Linked DNA regions of Homo sapiens. The protein of the gene in region 4 purifies or fractionates together with the protein of the main gene of each other region. This does not show direct contact. Each region holds a gene or a part of one and is shown on either strand. Other genes may lie near its edges.

Evidence for each region.
Region 1: the proteins of KIF16B (region 4) and MON1B purify together in Homo sapiens (affinity purification with mass spectrometry; 2 studies listed by BioGRID and IntAct, with this or other methods). This does not show direct contact.
Region 2: the proteins of KIF16B (region 4) and CCZ1 purify together in Homo sapiens (affinity purification with mass spectrometry, with the first as the bait; 2 studies listed by BioGRID). This does not show direct contact.
Region 3: the proteins of KIF16B (region 4) and CCZ1B purify together in Homo sapiens (co-immunoprecipitation; 2 studies listed by IntAct). This does not show direct contact.

The regions. Positions count from the first base shown.
Region 1 is NC_000016.10:77,194,184-77,201,219, reverse strand, and holds part of MON1B (vacuolar fusion protein MON1 homolog B), read right to left. Parts: intron 6,886-7,036; coding exon 6,066-6,885; intron 5,686-6,065; coding exon 5,538-5,685; intron 3,113-5,537; coding exon 2,912-3,112; 3' UTR 1,769-2,911; coding exon of another isoform or gene 1,708-1,768; 3' UTR 1-1,707. Other genes in the region: SYCE1L (synaptonemal complex central element protein 1-like), read right to left, coding at 1,708-1,768.
Region 2 is NC_000007.14:5,894,853-5,901,748, reverse strand, and holds the start of CCZ1 (vacuolar fusion protein CCZ1 homolog), read right to left. Parts: upstream 3,017-6,896; 5' UTR 2,950-3,016; coding exon 2,830-2,949; intron 1,466-2,829; coding exon 1,368-1,465; intron 1,277-1,367; coding exon 1,183-1,276; intron 895-1,182; coding exon 817-894; intron 93-816; coding exon 45-92; intron 1-44. UniProt on the Homo sapiens protein: Acts in concert with MON1A, as a guanine exchange factor (GEF) for RAB7, promotes the exchange of GDP to GTP, converting it from an inactive GDP-bound form into an active GTP-bound form.
Region 3 is NC_000007.14:6,798,415-6,802,289, reverse strand, and holds the end of CCZ1B (vacuolar fusion protein CCZ1 homolog B), read left to right. Parts: intron 1-766; coding exon 767-925; intron 926-1,214; coding exon 1,215-1,342; intron 1,343-3,010; coding exon 3,011-3,066; 3' UTR 3,067-3,353; downstream 3,354-3,875. Other genes in the region: RSPH10B2 (radial spoke head 10 homolog B2), read right to left, coding at 3,747-3,875.
Region 4 is NC_000020.11:16,563,439-16,570,474, forward strand, and holds part of KIF16B (kinesin-like protein KIF16B), read right to left. Parts: intron 1-7,036. UniProt on the Homo sapiens protein: Plus end-directed microtubule-dependent motor protein involved in endosome transport and receptor recycling and degradation.

The DNA.
Region 1 (7,036 bases), on a different chromosome or scaffold from region 4:
TGCCTCTAATCTAAAAGAGCTCTCTGCTCTTGAAGTTATTTCATTGGTCACACATTAAAAAATTACTGAGCACTTACTTTACACCAAGCAGGCATTGTTTTAGGTGCAGGGGAGCGAGAGGTAAACAGTCTCTGTTCTCATGGAGCTCACATCCTAGGTCAGGCAATAAGCAATAATCATTACTTTGATGTCTGTATGGGTAGGTCTGGCAGGATGCAGTCTAATGTGTTTGTTAATACAGTGGTTTAAAGAGTGTGCAGAAAGGGGTGTTCGAGATAGATAAAAGTGGGGCAGAAAGGTGACAACAGTTAAAGCATACTGATAGGTACACATGGGCTTTGTTTAAAGCTATTTTCTCTACGTTGGTACACTTTGAATATTTCTATAACAAAAAAATGCTAGTGGCATACAAATGCATGACTGCCTTGGGAGATTTTTTTCTTTTTGTTTTTTCTTTTTTTTTTTTTTTTTTTGCTCACTCTGTCTTCCGCGCTGGAGTGCAGTGGCGCAATGTCAGCTCACGATAACCTCTGCCTCCCGGGTTCAAGCAATTCCCCTGCCTCAGCCTCCCCAGTAGCTGGGACTACAGGCGCCCGCCACCACACCCGGACAATTTTTGTATTTTTAGTAGAGACGAGGTTTCGCCATGCTGGCCAGGCTGGTCTCAAACTCCTGACCTCAGGTGACCCACCCGCCTCGGCCTTCCAAAGTGCTGGGATTACAGGCATAAGCCACCAAGCCCGGCCAAGGGAGAATTTTTTTTCTTTTGAGACGGAGTCTCACTCTGTCACCCAGGCTGGAGTGCAGTGACATGATCTCGGCTCACTGCAACCTCCGCCTCTCGGGTTCAAGTGATTCTCCTGCCTCAGCTTCCTGAGTAGCTGCGATTACAGGCCCACACCACCGCGCCCGGCTGATTAGTGTGTGTATATATATATATATATACACATATATATATATATACACATATACATATATATATATATACACACACATACATACATACATATAAATACACATACACACATATGTATATGTATATATAGTTTTTTAGTAGAGATGGTGTTTCACCATGTTGGTCAGGCTGGCCTCGAACTCCTAACCTCGTGATCCGCCCGCCTCGGCCTCCCAAAGTGCTGGGATTACAGGCGTGAGCCTCCGTGCCCGGCCTGAGATTTTTTTTTCTTTTGGATGGAATACAATTTCCAATAGTGTCTAGGCCGACACCCCTCCACCCTCCTTTGCCTGTCATTCAAGTCAATACCCTGGAGAAAAGAGGCTGTGGGGGAGGCCATGTTCGATTAGGAGGTTTAAGAGTCCATCAAAGTGTCATATGTGTTAGGTGTGAAATGGCGACACTGGGAATTACTGTTAATAAGGGGTGGCTGCAGCACGGTGATTGTTATGAGAACATCCCCACCGCCCCACTTTTGTTTGAAGACTTTCGTACTGAACTACATGTTGTTTACTTTCAACAACGTATACACTACAGTTGACAAAAGTTAATCTCGGTGATAAGAATATGCCTGTTAATTTATCTCCACTGTGCTGAACGGTTAAAAAATTGTTTTTCTTCAATAACAAAAGGCTTAACATTTTATTTAAAAAAATTAGAATATCATTATTTCATTATTGTAATGGGACGAATCCTCCCTCCTTTCTGCCCTGGTTGGAGAGAAAGGAGTGCAGCCCACTTGCCCTCACTACCTTCAGCCTCCTCAGTAGCTTCTGGCGCCTCCACATTCAGAGGTTTCAGCTTCCCCGCCATTTTCCAACGCGGGGCCTGCGCGCGAGCCTCGCTTGATGACTGGTTAAAAAAGAAACCACGTGAGGGTGAAAGGCTTTTCAGCACGCATGCGTGCAACCCGCGGTTACGCCAGCGGTTAAATCAGGAGTCAGCTCTGGGCAGGCGCAGAACACACTGCGGCCCTGATTGCCAGCACACATGCTACAACCTTGAGGCTGTAACTCCACAAACAAGGGCAGAACTAGGGTAATGGCCAGTTGGGGAGTGAGGGTAGTGTGCACACACACAAAACCCTAGGGAGGTCTCTCCTGCTTTAGGCTGCTTGTCTTGTGCAGGTTGTCAAAGTCTGGGACAGACGTGCATGTGCTATGTGGTGGTACACAATAGTTCGAGTCTGTTTTCGTTTACAAATCCTCATCAAAGAGTTCATGAGAGAGGGTTACTTATCTCTGTTTCACAGATGAGTAAAACGAGGCTTAGAGGCTAAGTGCATCTCCTATGTAAAAATGCTGGATTTCAGCCACTGTGTGCAGTCAGGTGCTGTGTCCTGGGTTCCACAGGTGGACACTGAAGGCCACCTTCTCATTAATGTTAGCAGCAGCCAGCATTGAGGGCGGGTCATTTCTGGCAGGGTAAAGATGAAAAAAGTACAAGAAGGGCAAAGGAATATCCTTGTGGGTCTTACTTTTAGGCCTTTTATGTAGTTTTTTTCTTTAAAATACCCTCAGGCCAGTCCCAAGCATAGCCTGGCCCTGAAGTGCCAATTCCAGCACCCCCGTGGGCCACCCTAGACACCTTGGCCAGATCTGGACACTCAGGGCTGAGATTCAACTAGGAGGCAGACCACGGAAGCAAGTTTGGAGGGGACAGTCCCTGACAGAGGCTAGAGCATCATCCAAGTGGAGGAGATGAGACAGAGGGAAGGGAGAGGGAGGCCTAAGGATTTCCCCAGAGGGGGAGGTGCATGACTGGGCAGGGAAAGCAGCCTGCTCGCCTGGCGGCTGCCACCATCTCTCTCATCGGTGGGCCCTCAGACCTTGCCCCATTGCTTAGGGAGACAATGACTGGCCACAGACACACCCCCACACACATTTCCAGGGTAGACAGAAGGTAAAAAACAAAGGTGGTTGCTCCCAGCACTGCCTGGTCTGGGAGCTCCAACTATCAGAGTCCAGTGAACAAGCCATTATGGGCAGCTTGGTCCGTAGAGGTGGCTGGTGGTGTGGAGTACTTGGGTGGGTAACGAATGAAGAGCCGGTCCTCCTCTTTCTTCACCCAGCGCAGGAGTTTGGTCACTACCAAGATTGCACCTGCCTTGGTCACCAGAGGGCTGAGGCAGGTATAGAGCTCGAATTTGGAGGTCACCTGGGGGTTTCGGAGGAGACAGAGTCAGATGGGCCAGAGCTGGCTATGGACAATCCTGCCTACCCCAGTGCAGCTGCATGTCTGCCTCCTGCAACCTGGAACATGTACCTGGCAGCACCTCCTACCAGGTGCTGCCTAGATACTGGGCTAAGGTAGGTAAGCTGATATTGTGCAATTTCAGCTGGACCTAGTGACTTCAACTGGATGATGCTGGTTGTGTGTGTGGGTACTCTCTAGACCTGTTTGCTCATTGGGAACTGGGGAAAACAGTAACAATGTTTAATATTCTGTCAGTAACCTATTGTGTACAAGGTCCTGCTCTAAGCTCCTACAACTATGTTTTCATCATCTACAGCCAGGGAATAATATAAAGAGGAACTCAATTTATGCCTCATACCACATGGAGAGGCCTGACCCCACAAGGTCACTAGCGCCTTTCCTGTGCCACCTCCCAGAGCGCTCCCCTTCACTCCCTCTGCTCCGGCCACTCTACCCTTTCCTTGCTATTCCTCAAACATAGCCAGGCTTGGTTCCACCTCATAGCATATCAGTCCTTTCCCTCTGCCAGGTGTACTCTTCCTCCTAATATCCACGTAGCTCAATACCTCCCTACTCCACTCAGATGCCATCTGCTCAGGGAGGCCACCCTGATCACTTGGTTTAAAATTCTGCTCCTAACATATATTTTGTTTGTTTTTGTTTTTTTGTTTTTGACGTAGAGTCTTACTCTGTTACCCAGGCTGGAGTGCAGTGGCACGGTCTCGGCTCACTGCAACCTCCGCCTGCCAGGTTCAAGCGATTCTCCTGCCTCAGCCTCCCGAGTAGCTGGGATACAAGCGCATGCCACCACATCCAGCTAATTTTTTGTATTTTTAGTAGAGATGGGGTTCCACCCTGTTGGCCAGGCTGGTCTCGAACTCCTGACCTTGTGACTCGCCGCCCACTCCCCCCAACTCCCACCCCGACTCAGCCTCCCAAAGTGCTGGGATTATAGGCGTGAGGCACCGTGTCTGGCCCATATCTTGGTTTTAAAATTCCAATCTCTACTAAAAGGTATAAGGGCTCCATGGAAAAATGGCTGAGTTGAGGACTGGAATAGAGAAAGTCAAGTAAGATGTGCTCACATAGTGAAGGGGACGTGTCAGAGACACAGGGATCAGCCTGGCTAAATCAGGGTACCCACCGGCTAAATCAGAGGCAATCTGAACACCAAAATAAATGCTAGAGAAGGATTTTAGCTCACTGAATTAAAGAAAAATCCATGAGACAATATTGATAGAAAATTAAAAATTCAATAAATAGGAGAAGGAAAAGTTATTCCTTTTTGTTTTTGAAATGGAGTCTTACTCTGTCGCCCAGGCTGGAGTGCAGTGGCGCGATCTTGGCTCACGGCAACCTCCACCTCCCAGGTTCAAGCGATTCTCCTGCCTCAGCCTTATGAATAGCTGGGACTACAGGTGCGCACCACCACGCCCAGCTAATTTTTGTATTTTTAGTAGAGACGGGGTTTTGCCATGTTTGCCAGGCTGGTCTCGAACTCCTGACCTCAAGTGATCAGCCTGCCTCAGCCTCCCAAAGTGCTGGGATTACAGGCGTGAGCCATCACGTCCGGCCCCATGTTACTCTTTATAGTAAAATCCCAGCCAATAAATGTAGAAAGAATGATGGAGTTAGGAAAACCACCATCTGACCAGGCGTGGTTTTCACCACGCCCTTTATAACTCTTTATAAATATAAATATAAAAACTCTTTATATTGTTTTTGCAGCTTCTAAGTCTAAAGTTATTTGAAAATGAAAGTTAAAAAAATTTAAAAACAAAATTCTTAGCCTAGGACAATACCTGATCCACAGCAGTCACGCAATAAATTAATAAATATGCATTACATGGCAGGTGCCATTTCTGATGAGGCCTCCTTCACTGGCCTCCCTTAGTAGCTGACCTTTAGCAAACCCATAGGAAGTGAGGGCTGGAGCCCAGAGGAGACCAAAGGGAAGGATACCCCAGGTGGAGGGCACAGCAAGGGACCACGCCTGTAGTCTGAGGAGTGCTGGGGACTCATGGAGTCACAATGAGCTGGTGATGAATGGGGTGCCTCCAAACACATGGATTGGGCTACTGGGGAATCGGCAGGCACAGCAGTGGTAGTTAATGGGGCCTCTGGAAAGTCAAAGACACTGTCCTGGTTGCTAATCTGGGAGAAGCACACAGGAGGGTGAGGCTAATGTCGGATTAGAGACACGGTCATTAGTTGTCAGGGGCTTCAAAGATGTGTGTGTAAAGGCAGGGACAGTGTTGCAGGCAAGGCACAGCCCAGCCAGAGGCCTGCTGTGTTTGGTGGAGGCACTGTGGCTGGAGGGGATACAATATAGGGAAAGGAGGCTTGAAGTGGGGAATTAATTCACTCAGAGCCCTGCCCAACTTACCCAGGCCAGTAGTGTCTCCTTCTCAGCCACGTGGTAAATGAGGCGCAGGGGTCGGGAGGTGCTGTGGAGACGAGCATGCAGGCGGTGGTACAGGTCCGACAGCCGCTGCCGCTCCTCCTCTCTGCTGTAGGGGGCCTCTAGCTCAGGGCTGCCATGATGGAGGGAGGTGGAGGACAAGGTTAGTCCAGGGCCTTCTTGGCTGGCCCATTTCCTCCCTCAGTCTAGAGATTTCAATGAAGTTAGGGAGCTGAGCCTCTCCCATGAGACTTGAGGATTCTCAGGGGTTGGAGGCTGACCTTCCCTCATCAAACTAGGAGATTCCCTGAGTACTAGGGCCCTGCTGTCCACCAGAAGAGGGGGATTCCTTTAGGTCTGTGGCTGATGCTCCATCATCAGACAGAGACTTGTTCTCTTCCCTCTTTCTTAAGCATGGCTGGTTATCTCTCCTGAGTCACATCCCTGAGATGCTGAACTTCCTGGTTTGACAGGCCTTCCCACCCAGCCAGTTGCCTTAGGGTCAGGGCCTACCTGGTAAACTGGGGCAGTTGGCGGTGGTGGTCAGGGATGTCCAGCGGCTTATACAGGAAGTGCCGGAGGCCCGGCGCCCCGACAGCCTGCACGCTGTAGGCAGGAGCACTGGCTGATGAGGCATTAGAGAAGCTGGCAGCCTCCCCAAGGGCACGCATGGCACCAAGGGCATGCATCCCATCTTCAACCAGGCGCCGGCAGGCGGCCATGGCATGGAAGGCTTCACGTTGGGTGCCAAGCAGCAGCAGGCAGACAGGCATAGCATCCAGGCGGGCCACGTAGGCGTAGAAAAAACCATCAGGGTTGAAGCGGGGCAGGCACACAGGTGCCCAAGCCTCACCCGCCGCAAAGGCTGGTGCACCCACCCAGTCGAGCAGCAACTGCAGGTCAGCTGGGTCCAGCCGGCACTCGGCCAGCACATTTCGCTCCTGGGCTGCTGTTATAAGTCGACCGCCTACTGCCAGCACTGACAGCGCCAGGCCAGGCGCTGTGCAACGTCGGAGGAGCGCACCTAGTGCGTCTCGCAGCGGGCGGGCAAGGGGCACACAGCGCACGGCACCCAGGAGCAGGGCTCCTGGGTCCTGCTCCATACTGTCCAGAAGTCGGTCCAGTGTGCGCTCTGAACCAGCCAGCAGGCGGCGGAGGTCATAGTTCTGCTTGTGTGCGAAGATGCGGGCGACACTTGCACGTGTAAGTGTGCTCACGATCTGTGCGTGCACAGCTAGCAGCTCCCCCCGCAGCTGGGCTGCTGACTGAGAAGTCCGTGACATGGCCACGAGCAACAGTGGGCCCTGTTGTAGGAACACCAGCTTGTGGTCCTCTAGGGAAGGAAGGGGTAAGAAGGGGGGGTACAGCTGGATCAGGAATGACCAGAGGGAGACAGTGGGGCTCTTCTGCCCTCTCCTACCATACACACACCAGGCCCGAGTCCACATGCTCACTCTGTGGGCACCTGGACTGGGGTAAGGACA
Region 2 (6,896 bases), on a different chromosome or scaffold from region 4:
GGTAAGTGGCTGGACTCTGAGTTGAGAAAGAACGCCACGCTTACCTTGTACATGCTGTAGCACTGCCGCAGCACCGAGCTATAAACCTTGTCCTGCAGACGCGAAAACACAGCACACAGCTCAGTTCAAGGGAAAAACAATGTCTACTGGATAGATGGCAAAGGTACACTAACTCTTGGCCAAACAGTATAATGTTTATAAACTTTGTCCCACAATAGTTGCGTGCTGAAAAAAAAGTGTTTGCGTTCTTTTTTTTTTTTTTTTGAGATGGAGTCTCGCTCTGTTGTCCAGGCTGGAGCGCAGTGGTACAATCTTGGCTCACTGCAACATTTGCGTCCCCGGTTCAAGCGATTCTCCTGCCTCAGCCTCCTGAGAAGCCGGGATGACAGGTGTGCGCCACCATCCCTGGCCAGTTTTTGTAGTTTTAGTAGAGACAGGGTTCCGCCATATTGGCCAGGCTGGTCTCGGACCCCTGACCTCAAGTAATCTGCCTGCCTTGACCTCCCAAAGTACTAGGATTACAGGTGTGAGCCACTGTTCCCAGCCAGAAGTGTTTAAACTCTAATTTGTGAATCAGTAAGCCTTACTTTAGGAGGGCTTTCAATATAAATGAAGAGTAGAAGGTATTAGTGAGATTGGGTGCATATACATTTTAAAAAGATTGTGCTCATGTAAATGATAAACATAAACCTTTGCTATATACCCCGAGAAACTTCTGCAAAAGCCTCCTAGTTTAAATCCGACCAAGTAAGGCATTCAACATACTCAGCAATACATTTAAAAAAATAAATAAATAAACAAACAATGACACATTACCAACAACTCCTCCTCTTGATATTCAATAACTGGTTTTCCATCTTTACTCTGTTTTTCAATTATAGGATTCCGAACAACCTACAAAGTTTGATAAACTGAAATTATACAATGAATTCATTAGACCATGTTTATTTTGCCTTAATTTAAAAACTTTGAACATGCTACAGCATCAGAAACATAGCTTCTTAAAACAGCCCCAAGAATGAATAAAGCAAATAGGAAGAACTTGATTTTAAAATTGCAACCAATTTTATTTTAATTTTACTTGGATGCAACAGCCAGAGAACTTTCCTAAATTCTGAACAGTAAAGATCACCCATAACTTCACCATACAATTTCAGAAAGATACACTGTGTATGTAAATACCATGACCATCCAGAAATTTTCTTCTGGTTCATTGAAGAACTGTCTGTTCTTCTGTGTATGTAAAGATTTTGCAGGTTTTGATGGGCTAAATGTCCTACAAAGGTTAAAAAAATATGTTTGGGACAATTCTCCAGCAGCAGTTTTAAGAATTCACTGAACGCTAAAAGCACACTTAGAGGTATTACCTTGTAAACTGTACAATAGCTTCACACAATCCGACATTTCTAATCTTCTCATTCTTTTCTACCTCATTTGGATGATAAAATAAAATCTTATTTTCCTCCTGAAACATGAGGAAACAGAAGCACAACATGAATAGAAACATTTCATCTTAGCTATTGAAAACGCTAAGTTCAATGTCGACCTCTTGTGTCACACATGCTAATGACAAAACAAAACAAAAACCGGTTTTAGAAAAACAGGAATTGTAATCCTAGTATTTTCAGAGGCTGAGGCGGGAGGATCACTTGAGCTCAGGAGTTCAAGACCAGCATGGCAACACAGTGAGACGTCTCTATTATTTAAAATAAGAAGAAGAACAGGAATGATCTCATCATTGTGCAAATACTGCCCACCAGTCAGAAAGGCAATTTCGATAGTCAGTAAGTCACATCTGAAGTAGCACCAGGTAATTTTTATGAAAACTCAAGTCTCTAGGTTTCTTTCCTAGTGCTAATTTGTAATACACCAATGCTTGTAAGAAATAAAGGTGTGCCCATCTGCAGACACATAGCTCCCTGAAAATTAAATCCAGTCAGTTCCCAGCCATTTGAACTGACAAGTTGCTTTTTTTTCTTTTTCTGGAGATGGGGTCTGTGCTGCCCAGGCTGTAGTGCAGTGGCGCTATTACAGCTCACCTGCAGCCTCAATCACTTGGGCTCAAGCGATCCTCTGGCCTCAGCCTCCTGAGTAACTGGAAATACAGGTGCGTGCCACCACGCCCGGCTCACTTTTCAATTTTTTTTTTTTTTGTAGAGTTGGGGGTCTTGCTATGTTGCCCAGGCTGGTCTGGAACCCCTGGCCTCAAGCAATCCTCCCATCTCGGCCTCCTAAAGTGCTGGGATTACAGGCGTGAGTCACAGCGCCCAGCCTGGACAGTCTTTAACAGAAGTCTGACTTGCTGGAAACAAAACACAGCTCCGGACATCCTTTGAGAAAGTCGCCGTCCCCACCTCAGAAAAACCACACACACACACACACACACACACACACACACACACACACACACACACCCCCCTCCCGAAATTAATTTATTTCCTCATTTGGGCGAAAACTATTACAGGGACCTCCAGGCTTGCATCATTTGAAGGCTAGCGTCTGCCACCCTGGTTCCACGCTTCTAGTTGGGGACTACCCACTTAACAAAGCCAAGTTCAATTTTAATTTCCCAGAACTGACGCAAAGCAAAGCGCAAAGAGCCTCAACCTGGGGTGTGGAGTGATATAGACCCGACGGGGCTTTATTCCATCGACCTAGGACCTGAAGCGGTCCCTGCCTGCTGTCAGGTCCCCGCCGCAGCCCCCTGCCCGGACTCGCACCTGGCACAATGCAGGCTAGGTCAGTGCCCCTCGAGGTGGGCAGAACCACAGGGCCACCTTCCCGGGGAACACCGGCGCCGCCCGCCCGCGCGCCGCCCCCTCCGCATACCTGTCCTTCGCGCGGCCCGAAGCGCGGGTTGTAGATGAAGAAACTCAGCAGCGCCGGCGGGAACTGCTTCTCCTGGGCCGCCCAGGGCCCGCTCCCGGCCCCGGCCGCCGCTGCAGCCATCCCGCCCCGGCCCCCACCTCGGGAGCCTCCCACGGCCCGCCCAGAGACAGCAGCCACCGGCTAAAACACCGCACTTCCGCCTCCGTCGCCACCGCCCCGGAAGCGCTCGCCGCAGGCCCGGAAAAAGAATCCGCCTCGCAGCGTCCTCTTCAGGCACCCCCGGGTGGCTGTTTCCTGGCCGAGTTTGTGTTTTCCTGGCTCGCGGAGTTTTCTCCTGGCTACAGGCGAGGGCTGCGCGTTTCAGGAAAAACCGAGCGGGCACTGTTTTTTTTTTGTTGTTGTTTTTTCTGATAGGGTCTCAGTTTGTCATCCAGGCTGGAGTGTAGTGGCGCGATCTCAGCTCACTGCAGCCTCAACGTCCGAGACTCAAGCAATCCCCCTGCCTCAGCCTCCCAAGTAGCTAGGATTACAGGCGCGCGCCACCAAGGCCAGTTTTATTTTTTTGTAGAGGTGGGGTCTGTGTTGCCCAGGCTGCTCTCGAACTCCTGGCCTCAAATGGTCTCCCACTTCGGCCTCCCAAAGTGCTCCGATTACAGGCGTGAGACACCACCGCCCAGCCTGTTGTTGTTTTGGTGGTATTGTTTTAAATTTAATTTAGAGACAAGATCTCGCTTTGTCACCCAGGTTGCAGTGCAGTGGTGCCATCATAGCTCACTGCAGCCTCAACTCCTGGGCTCAAGGGATCTTCCCACCTCAGCCTGAGGAGTAGCTGAGACCACAGGCATGCACTACCATGCCCAGATAATTAAAAAATAGATAGATAGATAGTAGAGACAGGGTCTCACTTTGTTGCCCCGGCTGCTCTCTAACTCTTGGCATCAGGGGATCCTCCTGCCTCTGCTACTGGATGGAAGGTCTTGACCGTGGATTGCCCAGGTTCTTGGCTTGTTGAACACAGAACTGAACAAAATGCAATGCACAAAGTAACAAAAGAACAAAGCAACGAAAAGAAACAAAAGAAAAAACTGAAGTAAGGAAGAAACAGATTTATTGAAGCGAAAGTACAACTCACAGAGCAGGAGCAAGCTAGAGCAAACAGCTCAAGAGCCCCCATTAGGATTTTTATTAAGCTGGAAGAATTAGGTAACGCCCCTAGGTGCCCGTTAGAGGTCTCCGATTGGTTACACCCTCTGAAGGATTGGCCTGTGACCAATCAGAGGCTGAAGTGGAGACGCGCACCCGCCCCCCCCCCCCCCCCCGTCAATCAGAGGCTGTCACCCTCCCCCCCGCCCCCCCCCCCGTCGTCCATCAATCAGCCTCTGATTGAGGGAATGAACACGTGGCCTCTATGCTGCCTAATCTTGCCTAGAACTGGCTGCACCTGCTGTTCTTTTGTTTATGCCTTAACCCTTGGTTACCCTCATTCCCTATTCTGCCTCACCTGCCCTCCCAAAGTGCTGGGATTACAGATGTGAGCCACCCACACCAGGTCCATTGTTTTGTTTTTAGTTTATTTAAAAAGTATTTTATTCTAAAACAGCACTTTGCTCTGTTGCCCAGGCTGGATTGCAGTGGCCAGATCAGACGTCACTGCAGCCTGGAACTCCTGGGCTCAAGTGATCCTCCCACCTCAGCCTCCCGAATAGCTGGGACCACAGGTGCATGCCACCATGGCTGGCTAATTTTTAAATTTTTCGTAGAGCTGGGGTCTCACTATGTTAACCCAGGCTGGTCTCGAACTCCTGGACTCAAGTGATCCACTGGCCTTGGGCTCTCCAAGTGCTGGGATTGTAGGCATAAGCCCCTGTGCCATGGCAGTTTTTTTTGTAGAAGGAAATGTAGAGACACAAAGGAAGCCTCATTTAGAAATAAACAAGGCTAGCCACGGTGGCTCATAGCTGTAATCCCAGCACTTTGGGAGGCCAAGGTGGGTGGATCACTTGAGGCCCGGAGTTCCAGACCAGCCCCGTCTCTACTAAAATACAAAAAACTAGCCAGGCGTGGTGGCACATGCCTGTGGTTCCAGCTACTTGGGAGGCTTGAGGCAGAAGAATTACTTGAACCCAGTAGGTGGAGGTTGCAGTGAGCCAAGATTGCACCACTACACTCCAGCCTGGGCAACAGATCCAGACCCTGTCTCAACAAAAAAAAAAAAAAAAGAAAGAAAGAAAGAAGAAAAGAAAGAAAAGAAACACACTTAAGGGCAGATGTGCATTCCGTTTGGCCCATTAACATCATCTACAGAGTCCTTGTTTGAGAGACCTCAAGTGACCACTGGATCACCCACACCTACAAAGTTTGCCCCTTTCCCCCATTCCTTCAGCGCAGGTCTGGAGGCAGATGGGGCACCGTGTGTGCCACGGGAGCAATATCAGAGGTGGCAGACTCCCCAGAGTGGCTGTTCCTGGACCTTGCTGCCTGGGATTCCCTTGCCTTTGAGGTGTGTGGGTTGTGGCATAGTTGGGATGGCTTGTTACAGTTATGTGGATTCAAGCCTTGGCAGCATATGGTTTGACCAAGCTCAAGAAGACTTTGGTTTAGATTGCCTTATCTGTCACATATTAAGTTTGGAAGCAGAACCACTTCCCTTATCCAGCCTGGCAGAATAGACCACTTTTAGGGAAGTGATGAGTTGGAATTTGGACTGGAGACAGATCTGGGTACATATCCACTTTTGCCACTCACCGACTGCACCAATCTCCTTGCACCAAAGAAGAGATGGAGACTCTCTTGTCTGTATCTCTTATTTGGAAAATGGCTAATAGTAAATTCCTGCCAAGTGAGAGTTTCACTTGAAGAGTTAAATGGGACTATGAATGTGCATCAGGTGCCAGCACCTCATCATTATTTCATAAACGATTGCTACTGCTCCTTGCTATTGACTTTCCCAATTAGCTTGCTCTAGTGCATGAAATTATTCCATGAGAAATACATGTTTTGGCTGGGTGTGGTGGCTCATGCCTGTAATCCCAGCACTTTGGGAGGCCGAGGCTGGCAGATCACTTGAGGTCAGGAGTTTGAGGCCCAACATGGTGAAACATCGTCTCTACTAAAAAATAAAAATAAATAGCCATGCGTGGTGGCAGGTGCCTGTAGTCCCAGCTACTCGGGAGACCGAGGCAGGAGAATTGCTTGAACCTGGGAGGCGGAGGTTGCAGTGAGCTGAGATTGCGCCACTGCACTCCAGCAGCGGGATGGAGTGAGACTCTGCCTCAAAAAATAAATAAATAAATAAATAAATAAATAAATAAATAAAAATAAAGCACAAGGTGCTATACAAGTGAGTGAGATTAATATTTTATAGTATGAGTCACAGTTTCTCCCAGGATACCTCTGTGTCCTTGTACATGTTTGCCTCTCCCTTCCTCCCACATAGAATTCATTGCAGGAGGCATCGAAAGAGGGAGATGACAAAAAACAAAATTAAACATGCAGAGATCAAAGAAAAGAACATGCTTTTATGGTTTCAAAGTTAAGGATGCAAGAACGCTTAGAGCTCAATGCATCTGCCTCTCCAAACACAGTCCTTGGGTGTGGACGGGTACGAGGCAGGAGTGGTAGTGATGACAGATACCCGCATAGGTTTGGAGGTCTCAGAGGAGAGGGTGTGTGTGTCTTTCTCCCTGGGGAAGCTGGGGGAGGTGGTGAGCTTTGCAGAGTTCCCCTCTGGGTCCAGCATGGCTCAGTAACAGTAGAGTAACCAGGGAACAGGGGTATCTGGACGAGATATCCTTATTGTTCAGGAAGAAGCTGAATGATTTACTTGTGCATAAAAGGAATTCAGAGAAAGCCAGTGCTGAGAAGCCTCAAGGTCAGGACCAGGAGGAGGTAGCAGTGGCCCCTCAAGACCACGAGAGTAGAGAGGATTGAGGATGACTCTGTGTTCACTATTCGGACTGAGAATACTCCAGTCCCATCTGGGGCCTCGACTCTCTCCCCCAGCCTATGGTAAGAAGGGAGAAGAGGTTGCTTAATTACCTGACATAATTAAGATTCTGACTCCCAGC
Region 3 (3,875 bases), on a different chromosome or scaffold from region 4:
AGCGTCGTAGCACTGCCTAGTCAGTTTAAGAAATAAAAAGGTATATCCCATTTAAAATGTTCATCAGACTGCAGTGGAAAAGGCGACTGCGTTTTACAGTGATGTCCACTGGGGATGATATGAGGGAAAGCTTCGTTACATAGTGTCGTAGGCTTCCCTCATGAGGCAGGTTAATTTCCACGGGACACTCATTCCCCGCACTGTGGGAGGAACGAGGTGTTACTCTCCTCAAGCAGGGGTCAGCAGACTTTTACGGTAAAGGACCCAATAATAAGTATCTCAGATGTCACGGGCTATATGTAGATACGTGTTAAAACTACTCAACTATCATTTTGGTGGGAAAGCAGACAGACAGCACATGAACATGTGGCAATGGCGAGGTTCCCGTGAAACTTTGTTTAGAAAAAGAGGGCCAGGGCCGGGCGCGGGGGCTCACGCCTGTAATCCCTGCACTTTGGGAGGCCAAGGCGGGTGGATCACAAGGTCAGGAGATCGAGACCATCCTGGCCAACATGGTGAAACCCCGTCTCTACTAAAAATACAAAAATTAGCTGGGCGTGGTGGCGGGCGCCTGTAATCCCAGCTACTCAGGAGGCTGAGGCAGGAGAATCGCTTGAACCAGGGAGGCGGAGGTTGCAGTGAGCCGAGATCGTGTCACTGCACTCCAGCCTGGGCGACAGTAAGACTCCATCTCAAAAAAATTTTAAAAGAAGAATCTAGTTGTATCCGGCCCGAGTGCTACTGTCTTCGTGACATGTTTTCACAGGTCTGAGAAAGAACCCCAGTTTAAGTTTATCTACTTCAACCACATGAATCTCGCCGAGAAGAGCACAGTTCACATGAGGAAAACGCCCAGCGTGTCGCTCACTTCCGTGCACCCGGATTTAATGAAGATTCTCGGTGACATCAACAGTGACTTTACCAGGTGATTCCAGCCACTTCTCCAATCAGGCGTCCCCTTTCTAAGACGAGAAAAGACACAGAAAATCCCTTCAAGCCCTTTCCATGGGGTTCAAGCGTGAACCACCTTCATGGGCGCCGCTTCCAAACAGACCCGGGAGCCCTGAAGTCACCGGTTCCCTCGCGCGGCACTCCCTGAGCCTTTTAAATGCCACGTGCGCCCGTTCCATTTCCTGTTCTTGGTTTGGAACGCTTATTCTCACAGTCTGGCCGTATGAGTAACGAACAATTGCATTTTGACCCTCGTCTTGCAGAGTGGATGAAGATGAGGAGATCATTGTGAAGGCCATGAGTGATTACTGGGTTGTTGGAAAGAAGTCTGATCGGCGGGAGCTCTATGTTATTTTGAATCAAAAAAATGCAAACCTGATTGAAGTAAATGGTAAGTAGGATTTGGTATTTCAGGAGAATTTGAGAAGTTGTCTTTTCATTGCATTAAGAAACATGGTTAAAAAATAGGTAAATAGAACAAATCATGACTGTTGAGATTCTAAGCAGGTGCCTCTGCTCCACATTTGATCCATTTTCTGTTCCTTGGAAAACTATGACAAGACCTTCCTGTAGCACAGGAAACTTGGCAATGGCAGAAAGAAAATTATTTTCTACAATTCTAAAAAAAAAAAAAAATGACTTTATATTAAGAAATGTCCCCCTTTTTTTGGAGACAGGTTCTCACTTTGTCACACAGGCTGGAGTGCAGTGGTGCAATCATAGCTCACCACAGCCCCCAACTCCTAGGATCAAGCAGTCCTCCCACCTCAGCCTCTAGAGTAGCTGAGACCACAGGCATGTATCACCAAGGCATGTGTCACCAGACCCAGCTAATTTCTTTTTTTTTTTTGAAACAGAGTCTTGCTCTGTCGCACAGGCTGGGCTCAAACTCCAGGCCTCAAGTGATCCTCTGGCCTCCCAAAGAGCTGGGATTACAGGCGTGAGCCACCTTGCCCAGCCCAAAATGTCCTTTTTTAATATCCTGTGATAAAAACATATCTTTTGTAGGGAGAAGCTGCCGGGTTCACATAGCCGTTTACAAGTATCCCTCTGTACACAGGCAGAAGGAGGCAGACATTTTCTCCTGCCTTCCCGCCAAAGCGGCCAGCCTTGCCCACTGCACGGGGTGACCCGGCAGCTGCGGTGCTGATAGCTCGGCTGCCCTGGAGAGAGGGGACCTCACCTCGGCAGAGCTGCCCCCTTGGGAGATGCCCCACGTGTACACTGTGTGGAAATTCAGTGTAAGCGTTTTTTTCCCCTTGTATCTTGGGCATACTACATTTTTCTCTTTATTAGTAATACCTGTGTTAGTCATTGTGCGCACTAGAAACATCAGTTAATGCAAGCCTGATCTAAACTGTGAATGTGGTAAGATCAAAATCCTGACCCCTCTGCGGAGCACTTGGTCTGCAGCTCAAGGTTGCTGTCCGTTTCTTTGTTGTTCCATTAGTTGTCCCAGGATGACAACCTTGTGCTTGGTGTGTGTCACCAGCCTTGTGCTTCTAACCCCCTCCCCTGGGTGTCCCGGGCACTTTGCAGTTTCTCAGGCCCCGGGCAGCAGTGTTGATAGGCTCAAAACTCCTGAGGCCTGGTAGGTTTTGTAGGTGGATTTTTTCCCCTCTTCTACTTGTTAACATTTCTTGGCTGGGCACAGTGGTTCATGCCTGTAATCCCAGCACTTTGGGAGACCAAGGTGGGCGGATCACTTGAGGTTAGGAGTTCGAGACCAGCCTGGCCAACATGGCGAAACCCTGTCTCTACCAAAAAATACAAACATTAGCAGGGCGTGGTGGTGTGCACCTGTAGTCCCAGCTACTTGGGAGGCAGAGGCTGCAGTGAGCCAAGATCACACCACTACACTCCAGCCTGGGTGACAGAGCAAGACTCTGTCTCAAACAAAAAAAAAAAAAAAAAAATTCTTGCCTAGTCTTCTGGGATTTAAGGTCAAAATCAATGCAAATCTCTCTTCCTAATTTTACCCAAGAAGAATTTAATTATATATTATGTAACCTTTTAAGTGACTGCCTCTTCCTTCCTCACTGTTGTGTCCTTGTTGCAGAAGAGGTCAAGAAACTTTGTGCAACGCAGTTCAACAACATCTTCTTCTTGGATTGACGGATGACGGCTCACCGAGAGCATATCTAAAAAACACTCTGCAAACATTTGGTCACATGCAAGTTAGTGGTCATATGACGGACTGCATTCAGGACAAGGGTAAAGCAATACTTGCTTTGAAGAATCAGATTTCGACTCGGTCTGCTGATCTGAGGTTTTTAGATTTTAAATATTTATGTGGAATTAATTAAAGGTAGTTGGCTATATCGCTATCATTTCATTCTTTTGACATTATTTGAATATTTTACTGGAAAATAAGACTAATAAATTGTTAAAAGTTTTTAAAATTCTGGTTTGGTGTTGAGTCTCTCTCCTGCTGCCTATTTATAGATTACACTGGCCACCAGCTCCGTGACCCAGGCTGGAATGCAATGGCTCACTGCAGCCTCAACCTCCTGAGCTCAAGCAATCCTCCCACCTCAGCCTCCCAAGAAGCTAGAACCACATGTACACACCACCACGGTCGGCTGATGTTTTAATTTTGCAGAGATGGGGGGGTCTCACTATGTTGCCCAGGCTGGTCTCGAACTCCCGTAATCCAGCCATGTAGGAAACCTGAGATGCAGTGGGCCAAGGGGTATGTTAAAACACTGTGACGAGTTCAGTGCTAAGAACTGTAATGCTCAGGAAATCTTACAGCACGTGCCATCCTAAGCCTGTGTGTGTGTCCTCGTGTCTCTCTACTTTTTCTTCTTCTTGCTGGTGATGGTCTTGCTGGATGGGGACACGGTCACATCCTCCTTGGGAGGGTCCAGTATGAGGTGAGAGGATGACACGTCTGCCGGCTCCTTGAGCACTGTGATGTCCAC
Region 4 (7,036 bases):
ATAATTAACATATTCTCTTTCACAAAACAAGCTTCAGTAAGATGGCATCCCAATTCCAGAATCTGCAAAAACAGCCAAAGCTATCAAAATAACTTAGAAAAACAGTCAAGAAACAAGGAAGTATCACATCAATCAACTTTAGACCAAACTGCTATATATCACACAACTGGACATTTCTAAATAACTTCTCTCTCTCTGACAGGCAAAAAGAAACACATACACACTCGATCTCTGCCACTCCACTCTCTCCCACTCCACTCTCATGCTCACACAGTTTCCATGTTTAAAATAAAGCAACAGAAGTTTAAAACCAAATTATGTGACCCAAGTCACTCAAGAGCACCTTTTAAACTACTAATACACCTTGTATAAGTGTATTTTGCACACAAAGATATTTTAAAATATTGTATAAGGAAAAATACCAGACATTTGCATCATATTACTTATAAAGTTCACCTAAAAGAAAGAAAAAACTTCCATGCGCTCCCAACTCAAGGTGTCAGCAACAGCAGCAACTCTCCCCTCCTTTCTCTTTCCAGCCAGCAGCCCCTTCCCTCCCTTGCTCCTCCAGCCTTCTTTCACCAACCCCAAACTCCCTGTTTTCTTTTTCTCTTCTTCAAAACAAAAAGAGACAAACAAAAAAATCTGTCTTCTGCTGAGCCTGGGTTTGTCATGTCCAGGTAAGGGCTGGGATCCAGGGATGCAGACCAGGCCATGCCTCAAACATGGAGTAAAAAAGTTTCAAAAGATTACAGGAGTCCTTGCGGTAATTTGCTGAGAATGATGGTTTCCAGCTTCACCCATGTCCCTACAAAGGACAGGAACTCAACCTTTTTTATGGCTGCATAGTATTCCATGGTGTATATGTGCCACATTTTCTTAATCCAGTCTATCACTGTTGGACATTTGGCTTGGTTCCAAGTCTTTGCTATTGTGAATAGTGCCGCAATAAACATACGTGTGCATCGCAAGGACAAAAAACCAAACACCGCATGTTCTCACTCATAGGTGGGAATTGAACAATGAGAACACTTGGACACAGGAAGGGGAACATCACACACCGGGGCCTGTTGTGAGGTGGGGGGAGAGGGGAGGGATAGCATTAGGAGATATACCTAATGTTAAATGACGAGTTAATGGGTGCAGCACACCAACATGGCACATGTATACCATATGTAACTAACCTGCACGTTGTGCACATGTACCCTAAAACTTAAAGTATAATAAAAAAAAAAAAACTGAAAGAAAAAAAAGATTACAGGAGTCAACCTCTGCTTAGATGAACGGAAATGAGGCTCCCTCCTTCCTTTCATCTCTCCATTAACTGGAAGGGCAGCAACAGGCTACCTCCAATGCCCTCACAGCCCAATCACACTGCACAAGCCTCCCACAACCATGGCACTGCCTCCCACCCCTCCACAGACTTGAGCCCGACCACCTGACTGTGCAGCCTCTCACACTGGCGACCTTCCCTCCTCCCAAGCCTTGAGCCCCCTGGTCAGGCGTGACATTCTACTCTCCTGCCTTCCTCCCTTCCTCTCTCCATGCCCCTTCTCTCTCCAACTTGATCCTCCACTCCTACCTCCTGAAATCTGGCTGTCAGTAACCATAGTGAGTATAAAAGATAATAGTAACTATGATTTAGTGGACAGTTATTATATATTTATTTATTTCATCTGATCTCAACTACTTATACAGCATTATTTTATGGAAGTGGTTCTCAAATGTTGTGGCCTCAGGACGCTTTTATAGGCTTAAAAAATTACTGAGGAGGCTCAAGAGCTTTTATTAACATCAATTATATCTACTGATAGTTACCATGTTAGAAATTAAAACTGTGAAAATTTTAAACAAAATGCACAGCCCATAGAGCCGTGACATCATCACACACCATGTAGTTTCTGGAAAATTTGACTGTACCTTCATGAGAGAATGAAAAAATGGAATATAACATCTTAGTAGTACTGTGAAAACAGTTCTGACGTTGTGAACCCCCTATAAAAGAGTCTCACTGATACCCAGTTGTCCCTGGACCACACTTGGAGAATCACTGTTTTACAAAACAGAACCTGAGCCTTAAAGAGGAAAATCAACTTGCCCAGTCACTCGGCTAGCCCACTGAAGAGCTCCAGCCTGAACCCGGCTCATGCAGCACTGCTGTTACCCTTTCTCTTTCTGCTTTACCCTTCCTGAGAGACAGAATTCACTTCCACCACAGCAACTATCACCTTCCAGTGACCCATCTGCAAATGCGCATCCGCAGAGCTGATAACTCACCTGAGTTTCTACTGCCCGGAGTTCCCACCAGCACCCCGAAACAAATCAACAGACCAACACGCCCTTCTACCCACCCCAACCCGCGTAGGGCCAGCATCACTGCCTTTGGGAAAGGTCATTCTTCCACTTAATAAGGCCCCAAGCCACTCAGAGTCATCTTTGACTCCCCACTTCTCTATGTCCTGCTGACTGGTCTTTAGAATGTCTCTTGCAACTGCAAAAAGCAGGATATAGAAGTGTGTACATGACGACGTTCCTACACAAACAGGAAAAAGACTAGGTGCAAACGCACCAAAAGTTTATGAGTAGTTAGCTCCAGATCGTGGGATTATGAGCAATTTGCGATTTGATTTCTTCGGTATATTTTTCTGCATAACACATACGTTTCATAAGCATACATTATTTTCATAATCAGAAAATACAGTGATTGCTTCTTCAGGGCTTTGTTTATAAGTTTTGTCCCTTGCCTCTGCCTTTTCCAATTATAACCATGCCCAGAATCCAATCGCCATGGGTCATATTTCAGTTCTCTTTACTGTCTTCCTGCACTGGTTGTCAGCACTCAGACAGACATCTTGAACCTCAGTCTTGCGTCACGGAGTGGTGGCAGGAAAGTCAGGGAGATAATAATGCATAAAAGGCACTTTGCACAGCCCTTGGCAAATGGTAAATAAAAGTTCACCATTACTGGTGCTAGTATTATTATTTCCCTACACTACTATTAGATGAAACTTCAGAAAACACTAATTGGCGAAAGACAGCCCTGTTTTAGAACCATCAGTAGCTCACAATGCCTAATAATATACCTGATATTTACAGAACGCTTACTTTTGGGCCCAGCACTGTACGAAATGCTACCTCATTAAATTACCATTCCAGCCCCACGAGGTGGGTCCTATGGAGATCTCCATTTTACAGATGAAGAAACTGAGGCACAGACATGTTCAATAAAGTGCCAAGGTATGGAGGTAGAAAGTAAAAGAGCTGGAATTCAAGCCTTTATTCAGACTTGCTGCACAAGAGAATTTTCCAGGATGGTGGATATATTTATATCTACATTATTGAATATGTGTCTGTTGAGCATTTGAAATGTGCCTAATGCAATTAACTAAAATCCTTTTTTTATTTTATTTTATGTTAACTTAAATAGTCACATAGGTGGCCGACAGTTATACTGGCCAGCATAGGGATCTAGAGATCAAAAACCCAAATGCCCAGGCTTCACAAAGAAAAGTCCTCACAACACCCTGTCTACCTGCCTTGCAACTAATTCTTACAAAATCTTCAATTTGTCTAAAATCATTAGTGAAATAAACATGTTCCTACCTTCCAACCACCCCCTGCCCACCTCTCAACTAAGTCTTCTGTATAATGAAAGGACTTTAGGAAGTTAGAGTAGGGGAGACTTGGATTCAAATCCAGCATCATAGTATCTAGCTATGTGACCTTGGGCGGTCTTATTTCTTATTTCTGAATAAGAGACCTCCTTATTACAGTCTCTGAGCCCTTGTTCCTCATCTGTAGAATGGGCTGACAATGCCAACTTCCAAAGAGTATCAGCCAAGCACCTAACAGAAATTATCTATATGGTCGCTGGCAATATCCCTTCAGGGCTCAACTCAAGTTCCACCCTCTTATCTAAAGAGATGGCAGAAGCACTGGAGATCTCTTCCTCTAGCCTCTAGAATCCCCTAGAGGTTCCATCTCAACCGTACACAGATTCTATTGTTATTTTTGTGTGTTGTGTATTCTCTGATCGGCATTTCCCTGAGGCCATGGGCTTCTGTCATCTGTAAGCCCAGAGGCAACGTCACTACATAAAGGGCTCTGAAGGGAACCGAAGCAGCTGGCTCAACCCAGCATTATTATCTGAGGGGTCTCAGTCTCCCCTGGCTTTTATAGGTCAGTCAATTGGTGAGAGGAGGAAATGCAATTGCCAAGGTAAAGAAATAAGCATAGGGCTGGCAGCTCACGCCTGTAATACCAGCACTTGGGGAGGCTGAGGCGGGCGGATCATGAGGTCGGGAGATCAAGACCATCCTGGCTAACACAGTGAAACCCTGTCTCTACTAAAAATACAAACAAAATTAGCCGGGCGTGGTGGCGGGCGCCTGTAGTCCCAGCTACTCGGGAGGCTGAGGCAGGAGAATGGCATGAACCCGGGAGGCGGAGCTTGCAGTGAACCGAGATCGCGCCACTGCACTCCAGCCTGGGCAACAGAGCGAGACTTCGTCTCAAAAAAAAGAAATAAGTGTAGTACCTGGTACCTGGCAGTGCCTTGACAGATACTTCCCGTCCTTAATACAAGACATGTCTGTCCTCATCATCACAGACCTAAGAGGCTAACCATGAACTACTTTCCCTTTGACCTATCTTCTTTTTAAAAGAGGAAGACGTCAGTACACCCTAAAGATATCAAATCCAGGCAAAATGCCACTGGTGGTTTTTTTTCTTCTTTTTCTCTCCTGAACTTGATAGACTTGATACTAGATTCTACCTGAGAGGCTAATCAGGAAGAAAGGCTAGGAACAGTCAGAAAAGAGAAAGAATGGGGTGGATTTGCCCTATCAGATAAGCAAGCACATTATACAACATAGCTATAAAGCTGGCACATCACCAGCACTCAGTAAATATTTTTTGGCATTTTTTAAATACTTGTTTTTGAATAAAGTTACAATTATTAAACTGTAAAAATAATAGTAATGACAACAAGCACTCTTCAGGGAGCCCCTGCTGAATGCCAGGCTCTGTGTGGAGAGCTTTATCCACATGCGTTATCTCACTTGAACCCACAACAGTGTTTTTCACACCCAACTGCAGCTCTTTCGTGGATCACACCTGTAATCCCAGCATTCTGGGAGGCCAAGGTGGGAGGATCACTTGAGCCCAGGAGTTTGAGACCAGCCTGGGCGACACAGGGAGACCCCGTCTCTACAAATAATTTTAAAAATTAGCCAAGTGTGGTGGTGTGCACCAATAGTCCCAGCTACTCAGGAGCCTGAGGCAGGGAGATCACCTGAGCCCACCAGGAGGTTGAGGCTTCAGTGAGCCACGACTCTGCGCCACTGCACTCTAGCCTAGACAACAGGGTAAGACCCTGTCTCAAAAAAAAAAAAAAAAAAAAAAAAAAAAAAAAAGGCATAGCTGTGACTGTCTTAAGAAACTGACTTTGACTTTGAGCAAGTTAACTATGTGCTATGATCTGAATGTTTGTCTCCCCCTAAAATTCAAATATTGAAACCTAACCCCTCACTGAGATAGTATTAAGAGGTAGGGCCTTTGGGAGGTGATTAGGTCATGAGGTCCTTGTGAATGGGATTAGTACCCTTATAAAACAGGCCCAAGGGAGTCTGTTTGCTCCTGCCACGTGAGTACACAGCAAGAACCTACCATGTATGAGGACCTGGCTCTCAGAAGACAGCCAGACAGCCTATCTGCTGGCACCTTGATCTTGGATATCCCAAGCTTCAGAACTACGAGAAGTAAATGCTTGTTGTTTATAAGCCACCCAGTTTACAGTATTTTGTTAGAGCAGTCCAAACACACTAAGAAACTCTGTCTCCCAATCTGTAAAATGGCATAACAATAATGTCTCTACCTGCCAAGATGGCTGCAAAGATTAAACTGGATTTTGTACCTGGAGCTAGGACCAGAGAGTCTGGCACAGAGTCAAGTCTCAATAAAGGTGGCTACCATTTTGCCTACGTAACAGAATCACTTCCGCATTTGAAATGAGTATTACTGCCACATAATTGAAAGCCATAAGGCAATAAAAATAAACTCATCACATCTTGGCCTGAATCAAGCACTCATATTCCTTACAAGGCTGACTGATTACTGCAAAGGCCCCTAGTTTAGAAACTCAGTCAAACTCAATACTCCACCACCAGCAGTCCTTACTTTCCAATAACTCTGGGACTTGTTTTTCTGTAGGTTGCTTTCCCTTTGCCTGAGGCTCCACTACTCTAAAAATAAACATTAAAAACATTAACAACTTCCTTCAATCCTCCTCACAACCAACTGAAACTTCTCCAGTGCCAATGAATTTTGTAGGTGACTTTTTAAAATTACCTAAATAAGCACTGCTGGGTTAATAATTAATTCTAAGTATTAATTATAAAACTACGCATGAGGAAAGTAAAAACAAACAGTAAAAAAAAAGCCTTTCATCTTTGCCTAATGGATTCATCATCAGTCCTCCTCTTTAGAGGTATCAGTGTTAGGTTTCTTACAAACCATTACATATAGATGAATCTGTGTGTGTGTGTGTGTGTGTGTGTACATTTGTTAGCACACACAAACACACAACTTTACTCCACTGTGGATATCTTGCTTTTCTCAATCCTCTACCTTGGAACTCTTTTAAGATCAACACCCTCTTTTTAAGACTTGCATAATAATCCACCAAATGATTTACGCTATAACTTAACAAATTTCCCAATTTTGTATATTAAGGTCACTTATGATTTTTTGTTATCAATGATGATGCAAAAATCATCATCTTTACACATATATCTTTGTAGGCAGCAATATAATCCATATAATAAAAATTAGAAATTAGAAAAAGTAGAAATGAAATGGTCAAATCAAAAAGTTTATAGATTTCCAATTTTTTAAGGGAAGCATTTTCTGCTTAAGTATACAGATTTCTAATCTTGACAGCTACTGTCAAATTTCCCAATATGAAAGTTTCAGATGTTTTGATCCCTTATGCTTCCGTGATCAATGCAGAGGCGTCTGTTTCATCACTCCTGTACCA